Linked DNA regions of Homo sapiens: region 1 is linked to region 2. The links come from fine-mapping of genetic effects on gene expression. Tissue or cell type: macrophages after interferon gamma. Region 2 holds a variant in brackets; the other region holds the start of a gene. All regions are shown on one strand. Distances are between the middles of the regions. Region 1 holds the start of MRPL13 (mitochondrial ribosomal protein L13). Region 2 has its middle 110 kb from the start of SNTB1.

Evidence for each region. PIP is the estimated chance that this variant, and not a neighbour inherited with it, causes the effect.
Region 1: it holds the start of MRPL13, and the variant in region 2 is the best candidate, but not a certain one, in a credible set for the expression of MRPL13 in macrophages after interferon gamma (Alasoo 2018, PIP 0.62).

The regions. Positions count from the first base shown.
Region 1 is chr8:120,442,733-120,447,133 of GRCh38, reverse strand. MRPL13 (mitochondrial ribosomal protein L13) reads left to right here and starts at 1,984. Exons shown (of 7, transcript NM_014078.6): 1 at 1,984-2,066; 2 at 3,826-3,949. The coding sequence starts at 2,040. MTBP (MDM2 binding protein) reads right to left here and starts at 1,715. Exons shown (of 22, transcript NM_022045.5): 1 at 1,546-1,715; 2 at 621-701. The coding sequence starts at 1,663. RefSeq lists an enhancer at 2,077-2,256.
Region 2 is chr8:120,920,731-120,925,131 of GRCh38, reverse strand. No RefSeq gene overlaps it. Among named protein-coding and RNA genes, the nearest start is that of SNTB1, 110 kb to the right of the region's middle. The variant A/G (reference allele first, on the strand shown) is at 1,896.

The DNA.
Region 1 (4,401 bases), 480 kb after region 2:
TAAAGGACATTCTCCAGTAAAGGACAAGAAGCAGGAATAAAAGAAAAGATAACTATCAAAGTCAGTAAATGCATTTGTATAATGCCAGTAGAAGCTAAAGGAGGAAAGATTTTTACAAAGTACGGTTGGTCAAAAAAGCGAAATACTTCAAAAAGTCAAAGCAGATAAGAACTGAGAAAAGCTCATCGTGTTTAGTAATTATTAAGTACTTTTAAGAGAATCAGAACAGAAATAGGTAATTAAGAACAGAAATAAATAAATAAATAAATGGTAAGGAAATCCGTGTGGGAGCTTTACATATTTTTACTCATGATAAAATCATCCTCATAAAGCCACACTCCCCTTAGTTATACAGAACTAAGATAGGCAAGAAAATTTCATAAAAGGAGCAAAATTCAAGCTGAGAACCTAGAATAATTTTCATAACTTTACTATATTCAAGCATCTAGAAGAAAGGGGTAATTTATTTTTCAGTTTTGTACTCCCTTAGTTATCTCTGTAACTCAGTGCCTTGTACACAGTCAAGAAGTATTTCCTTGTACTCCTTAGGGTCCAAATTAATTAAGTTAATTTCCAGTACAAATGCTGTGCCAGAGAAAAGAGGAGTTTATTATACTTACCAGGGAAAGTACTATCTTCTGGATTAATTGAAGCACTAATGCTTCTTTTCAAGAGGTGATAAACATTTGCTGCTGTGAAGTCTGAAAAAGAAAAGATAGACTAACTCAAAGGGCTCTAGATTTACATAATCTAACTTAGTCCAATTTCACCATCAGAGACTCTCAAGACCAGTAGGTTGTACATAAAAGTACTAAACGCTGCTCAAGATCTGTTCAAGTTTTGATACAGAAAATCTAAAGCAATCAGAGAAAATAGAAAAGGCTCCCGATCTGTACATGCCAGTCAGTTAGCACGAATGCAAAATTCCCCTCAAAAGAATAATTTTAAAGAGAAGGGAAATTCTGTGACAATACCTTATACACAACCACATACATTTACTCCTCAAAATGCCTGTTTGATCGAAACAAATGAACACATAAAATGCAATATTGAATCTAGACGGGTGCACCAAAAAGCAGTGCAATCGCAAACAATTAAAATCATTTAAAATTCATCATTTGTTTTTAAAACTTAGGTTATATGTGGGATGTCTCCTCCCATTAGATGTAAATTGTAGGACAGCAAGATCTTTGTCCATCTTGCTCCTTTCCGTATTATTTGCATGTGAAACACAGGAGCAGAAATAATAAATGCATATATTTCCAAAAAGCAGGAAATTCCATTACTAAGGCATAGAAAATTTATTAAGTTAAACATTTACTATGCCAAGAACTTCTAAGGGCTGGAATCTTGCATCCACAAATTTGTCCCTGTTTTTCCATGAAGATGCTATTTTTGCAGCCCTCATTAACTCTATCCCAGATAGAGTCCCAGCTTCGTGGGACAACTACATATTGATCCCTCTTCAGCAGAACTTGATCACAAAACTCAAACTTCTTCCCCTCTCCACAAGCCGTTCCCGCTCTTTCTCATCCCAGCGCTTACCCGGCTGATTCTCAGTACCCTCACCCGACGACACCTCTGGCCCATGTTCTGCCTCCCTACTGGCCGCCGACGGGAATTTTCCTTCCCCCCAGATCACCAGCAGCAGGTACCGATCCATCTCCTCAGAGATCACCCCCCAACTTTAGGTCTCGGCTTCCACATCCAAACAGACGCGCGCTATGACGCATTTCCGGTTCCCTTCGTTTAGGTCGGCTGGAAATTATGTCCTCCGTCGGTTTTCCGCAGTTTTTCCACCAAGCGAGATATTTTTGGGAGTTATTCCCTAAATAACTGCATTATATGCTCCTTTCATGACGAAATTGCTGCCGTGGAGAAGACTGGAGGAAACTCGAGGAAGAGGGAGAAGCCGACAAGTGCTCGACGGGCTAGGAACTGTCCTGCTTGGGTGTTAGCGTTTCCCGCCGGGCCAGTAAGGCTGAGTGACCCGGCGTGGCTACTAGGAGAAGGACGTACGGTCCTGCTAGTAGAGGAATATGTCGAGTTTCTCTAGGGCGCCCCAGGTGAGCTCGGACTCTTATGGCTTGATGGGGTTCATTATACTGGCAGAAGGAGAGCGTTGGTTCCGGCAGATTAAGTAGTGAAGCTGGGGCGGCAGGGAAGCCGAGACCCTCGGCCAAGAGGTGACTTGGGAAAGCACAAGAGGGTCGTCAGTCTGGCAAGCACTTAATGTCGTTCGTCTGTTACTCGTCCCCTCTTCTTTTCAATCTGCCCTTTTCATGTCTTTCTTGGGGGGGCGGGGGGAAGAGGATTAGAGCAGATCGGAGAGGTAATAAGGTGGATCACATAGGGCATTGTAGGCCCTTGCAATAATTTGTTTTTTGACTGAGTAAAATGGGGACCTTTTGGAGGGTTTTGATCCACGGAGTAACAGGATCTGACCTGGTGTCAAAAGGAGCACTCTGGCTGCTGGGTCGAGAATAGACTGTTCAGAAATAGGGGTTAGTAGAGGACAGAAGCAAAGAATATGTTTGGAGGGTGTTACAGTAATCCAGGCGAGACGTGATGGTGCAGAGGCCACGCTAGAAATACTATGGAGTGTGTTGAAAGTGGTCAGGTTTTGTTTGAAGGTGGAGCCAGTAGGACTTCCTGAATATTGAGTATAGGCCAACAGCAAAAGAAGAAACAAGGATTACCCCAAGGTTTTTTGGTTTGTCCAACTGGAGGGTGTGTCATCAACTGAGATAGGGAAGGCTGAGATTGAACCAGGTTTCAGGTGGAAGAATAGGAGTTAGTTTGGGTTATATCGGTCTAAGATGACTCTCAACTCAGTGCCGCTCCAAGTATGGTTCCTTCCTTGGGCTGTTTGTTGCCTGTCTGTGATGAGATAAATACAGGAAGTAAAATAAAAATTTTAAAACCTTTTTCAGCAATCTGACATCGCCCAGCATTTGTATTTTTTTCATTAAAAATTTTTTTTTTCTAAGTATCAAACTATTAGTCTACAATGGATGGGGACAAAAACTGGCCTTTTTCTTATATGTAGACTAGTTTGAGGTTGTGATAAGTAAATTTAAAATAAGACCAGCTAGCCTCGTTCTATTTTTCCAGCATTGTTTAGCCTCTTGTGTATATGCATAGAGAAAGCATCTGGTGGAGATCTTTCTGGCCTAGAATTTTCTAAGAATTTGAATACATTGATGACGACTGTAAAAACAATGCTCTATTCCTGAGGCAACCTAAAGATACCTATTTCAGGCAACTTTTTAAAGTTGAAATTTATTCCACATCACCCATCTGTACTTTCCCAACTACATTGTTCTATTTAACTCTCCCCAGGAATTGAACTCCTGAATCGTCTTCAGTTTCCAGTTGGCCACTCAGCTTTCAATATAATGTACCTAATAATCTCTAAATGTTTTTGAAGACCTTCATAAACAGCTTCTACTTTCTTACAAGCTTCTCATTGCCCCTCCAGATTCTATTATGTGTTATACAAAAAAAAAAAAAAAAGTCATACCGTAAAGGGAAATATATCTTTGGGATATTTATAACAAAACGTAAGTCATATTGCTAACAGGAAACCAGGAAGGAATAATTACTGTGTTTGTCTTTGCAGAATGATTAGAAAAAACAACCCTTTTCCAGAAATAGAAATGAAAACAAAAATTCTTTAGCAATAGAGTTATTTTTCAAAGAAATTGTTGACATTAATTGTAGAAACGTGATGATATATGATAATAAATTTAATTACTGTATTTCCATTTTAATGATAATTATCTTTATTTTTTCCTCTTCTTTTTTTTTTTTTTCCCCCCCAAGCAATGGGCCACTTTTGCTAGAATATGGTATCTCTTAGATGGGAAAATGCAGCCACCTGGCAAACTTGCTGCTATGGCATCTATAAGACTTCAGGGATTACATAAACCTGTGTACCATGCACTGAGTAAGTATTATTTTAGACCTGTCATTAACCACTGTAGTTTTCATGCCAGAATAGAATCTTGATGAAGTTTAACAGGGCTGAGTTTAAGGGCCCTTTTTATTTTTCCTGAGGATCCTGTATTCCATTCTTGCTGAAACCATACTAGCGCCCAAAACTGAATTTGGCTTATTCACTGGAAAACCGTATGGATCAGTTTACCCGGAACAAGCCTATTTTATGCCACTGCCCAGCGAAATTATTAGTAGCCCTTCTTTTCACACTCAGAAATAACCTGATTTGCCCCATGACTTAAACTTTCACTTTTATATATGTCTTTTCACGTGATGACATCCATATAAAGAGTTTTTAAGGGAAATAATTTTGCCCTCTCTTCTAAAAAATCTTTTCCCCTAGAAAAATATATGGTGCTAGCTAGGTATGGGAAGCTTATTTTCACTAATAAGACTAATAGA
Region 2 (4,401 bases):
TCAAAGCCCAGGGTTATTCCACTTCATCTTGCTTGTAGCTGGAAAAACAAAACTCAAACAGTGGTTGCCCTTAGATTTCGAGATGTCTTCTATGCAGTGTATTGATATTAGGATAGTATTTCTTCCGTTACAAACAAAATAGTTCCCCGCCACGTAAGTTTGCATTGAAAAACTACCCAGTGACATCAAATTCAAAATGTATACCACAATTTTTGTTAGCAAACAAATCTAGTTCCCTTAATGATGATTGACCACTTAACTTCTACCCCTACAGTTAATGTGGGAGCAAATTGGAAAACAAAGTTGAGCAGAAACAATTACATTATAATGGAAATTCTGAGGAATATCTCATACTGTTTTAGGTTTGCTTTGGCTGTGTTTGCAGCCAAAATTCAGTCACAGTCAATCAACCGATTGTTTCCTCTGCATTACACCAAAGGAGTGGTTGTTCTAATTTTTTTTTCTTTGTCACTGAATTGATGAATTGCTTTGGCATCAGGTAGGTCAGGTAGTCAGCTTTTATCTTGGGAAATAATCATCTTCTGCTGGGAGAGCTATTCGGCTGTGTGGTAGTGCTTTATCATAGGCAGCACATAAGTGGTGCTGTTTGCAATTTGATAAACGTGCACAAGGCTCAGAGGTCCCCAAACACAAGTCTCATATGTAAACACAATCAAATCATGCTGTTAACTAGGGAACTGAATTGTCATTGCTCATCGTTCTCTGTCTTTTCCACTCCTCTGTAAAAAAAATCCTCATACCTCATTCTGTACAAGCAAATTGAGAGGCGTTTCTCAGTTCTGGGTAGCATTAAGATGAGCATCAAATATTTTCTATCTGCTTTAAACTGAATTTTTGATGGGGAAATACCATATTAAAACAATTTTATAAGAAACTGGAACATGGCGAGTGTGGTGGCTCACGCCTGTAATCCCAGCACTATGGGAAGCTGAGGTGGACGGGTCACATGAGGTCTGGAGTTCGAGACCAGCCTGGCCAACATACCAAAACCTGGTCTCTACTAAAATTACAAAAATTAGCTGGGTGTGGTGGCATGTACATGTAATCCCAGTTACTCAGAAGGCTGAGGCAGGAGAATTACTTGAATCTGGGAGGTGGAAGTTGTAGTGAGCTTAATCATGCACTGCACTCCAGCCTGGGCAACAGAGTTGAGACTGACTCCATCTCAAAAAAAAAAAAAAGAAACTGGAGCACTTTCAAAGGCTTTAAGGACATATCAAAATACTGGGGACTATCTAAGAAATGCAGAAGGATAGCTAGTTTTTTAAAACTTTTCTTTCCCAAAGCCTTTGGAATCATAACACTTCAGGTTAGGAGAAACCAGAAATGTTGCATGTATGTGCAACACACACACACACACACACACACCCCTACCTGTCTCTCTTTAGACACTAAGGACAAAAGTTAATTGTTTTAATTATTGCCAACATTTCTGCAGTGGATATTAACTGCATTTTAAAAATTATGAAATTGAAGCAGAAAAATTAAGCAACTTGCCATAGGTCCCATATTTAGTAAGTGGAAGAATTAAAATTGGAACCCAGTTTTATCTCTATGTCTTAACTACTACATGCACCACCACACTTCTATAATATTCCTGCCAATGTATGCTTGAATTCCTTTTTTGAACCAGTCCATGAACTCAGTTTATCCCATCCTCAGACATCTCTATTTGAATTGCCTACTCTATGCAGTGAATTAAAAGTTGTCTTTCTGTAACTCCCGCCTAGTGATCCTAGGTCTGGCTTGAGGCCTTTCTGAGTAAGTGCAATCCCTCTTCCAAGTGACAAGCTTTTGAATATTAAAAGCTGGTAATCATGTCACCTTGAGCTTTCTTTCTGGAGCCTGGGTAAATATTCCCAGGTCCTTCAGCC[A/G]TCTTTTCTATAACACGGTTTTGTTTTCTTGGTTACTTTCTATCGTATATGTCTTCCTCTTAAAATATGGCTCAGTATTACTCATAAGATTTCAGCTTTCGTCTGGCCTCCCTAAGATGACCAGAAATCTTACCACCCTCAATCTATTAATGCATTGACTGAATTAAAATTTCTCTCCTCCCCAGCAATCCTGTTTTTAAATCTATACTTCATGGGAATGCAGCCTTGCCTCAGAGTCCCCCAGACCCCACACACAATGTCAAATCTGTAACAGTCCTCTTCTAAAAATGCAAAGCAAATCCTACATGAAATTAACCAGAGCACCCAATGGGACTCTATTTTATGAAACTTAATCCACTTTAGTGTCCTGCTTCTCTCCCTAAAGCCTCATGGTCCAAGCATCCTCTATCTTTAAAAAGTCTATAAATCCTTAAATGTCTGCCACAAACCCAGTTACTCTCCCAGGAAAGTACATGCATATCTCATTTTATTGTGATTCACTTGATCGTGTACTGCATTTTTTTTTTTTTTTTTTTTTTACAAACGGGAGATTTGTGGCAGCTCTGCTTCAAGCAAGTCTATCAGCACCATTTCTCCAACAGCATGTGGTCACTTCATGTTTCTGTGTCACATTTGGGTAATTCTTGCAATATTTCAGATGTTTTCATTATTATTATATCTGTTATGGTGACCTGTGATCAGTGATCTTTGATGTTACTATTATAACTGTTTGGGGGTACCATGAACCACTCCCATATAAAACTGTGAACTTAATTGATAAACGTTATGTATATTGTGACTGCTCCACTGACTGACCGTTCTCCCATCTCTCCCTGTCTCCTTGGGCTTCTTTATTGCCTGAGATACAACGATATTAAAATTAAGCCAATTAATAACCCTACAATGGCTTCTAAGTGTCCAAGTGAAGGGAATAGTTGTACATCTCCCACTTTAAATCAAAAGCTACAAATGATTTTTAGTGAGGAAGTTATGCCAAAAACAGATAGGCCAAAACTCATTCTCTTGCACCAGTCAGTTAGCAACACTGCTAATGCAAAGAAAATTAACATTGTTAATGCAAAGGAAATTAAAAATGTTATTCCATTGAACACATTAATGATAAGAAAGTGATATGAATAATGATAAGAAACAGCATATGCAGAAAGCTTTGGAGATCTGGATAGATCAAACTAGACACAACATTCCCTTAAGCCAAAGCTTAAGCCAGACAAAGGCCCTAATCTTCAATTCTGTGAAGGCTGAAAGAGGTGAAGAAGCTGCAGAAGAAAATTTGGAAGCTACCAGAGGTTGATTCATGAGGTTTAAGGAAAGAAACTTTCTCTATAACATAAAAGTACAAGGTGAAGCAGCAAAAGCTGATGCAGAAGACTCAGCAAGTTATACAGAAGGTCTAGTTAAGATCATTGATAAAGGTGACTACTCTAAACAAATTTTCAGTGTAGACAAAACAGTCTTAATTTGGAAGAAGATGCCATCAAGGACTATCATAGCTAGAGAGAAGTCAGTGCCTGGCTTTGAAGCTTCAAAGCACAGGCTGACTCTCTGGTTAGGAGCTAAGGCAACTGGTGATTTTAAACTGAAGTGTTCATTTACCATTCTGAAAATCCTAAGGGCCTTAAGAAATCTGCTCTGCCTGTGCTCAATGAGATTTTATTGTTTTAAATTTTATTTAAACACAATGGATGACCTCACATCTATTTACAGCATGATTTACTGAATATTTTAAGTCCACTGTCAAGACTTACTTCTTGGAAAAAAGATTCTTTTAAAAATATGGCTGCTCATTGACAATGCACCTGGTCAACCAACAGCTCTGATAGAGATGTATAAGTGGATAAATGTTGTTATCATGCCTGCTAACACAACGTCCATTCTGCGGCCTATGAATCAAGGGGTTAATTTCAACTTTCAAGTTTTATTATTTAAGAAATACATTTTGTAAGGCAATAGCTGCCATAAATAGTAATTTCTCTGATGGGTCTGGGATAAGTAAATTGAAAAACTTTTGGAAAGGATTCACCATTTTAGATGCCATTAAGAACATTGGTGATTCATGGAAGGAGGTCAAAATATCAACATAAACCAGAGTTTTAAGAAAGTTGATTCCAATCCTCATGGATGACTTTGAAGAGCTTGAGACTTAATTGAAGGGAATAACTGCAGATGGGATGGAAGTAACAAGAGAACTAGAAGTGAAGCCTGAAGGTGTGACCAAATTGCTACAGTCTCATGAGAAAGCTTGAATGGATGAGAAGTTACTTTTTATGGATGAGCAAAGAAAGTTGGTTTCTTGGGATGCAATCTACTCCTGGTAAAGATGATACAAACGCTGCTGAAATGACAAGACAAGATTTAGCGTATTACGTCAACTTAGTTGATAAAGAATGACAGGGTTTACGAGGATTGGCTCCAACTTTGAAAGAAGTTCTACTGGGGGTAAAATGCTATAAAAATTCACATGTCACAGAGAATATATATATAACTA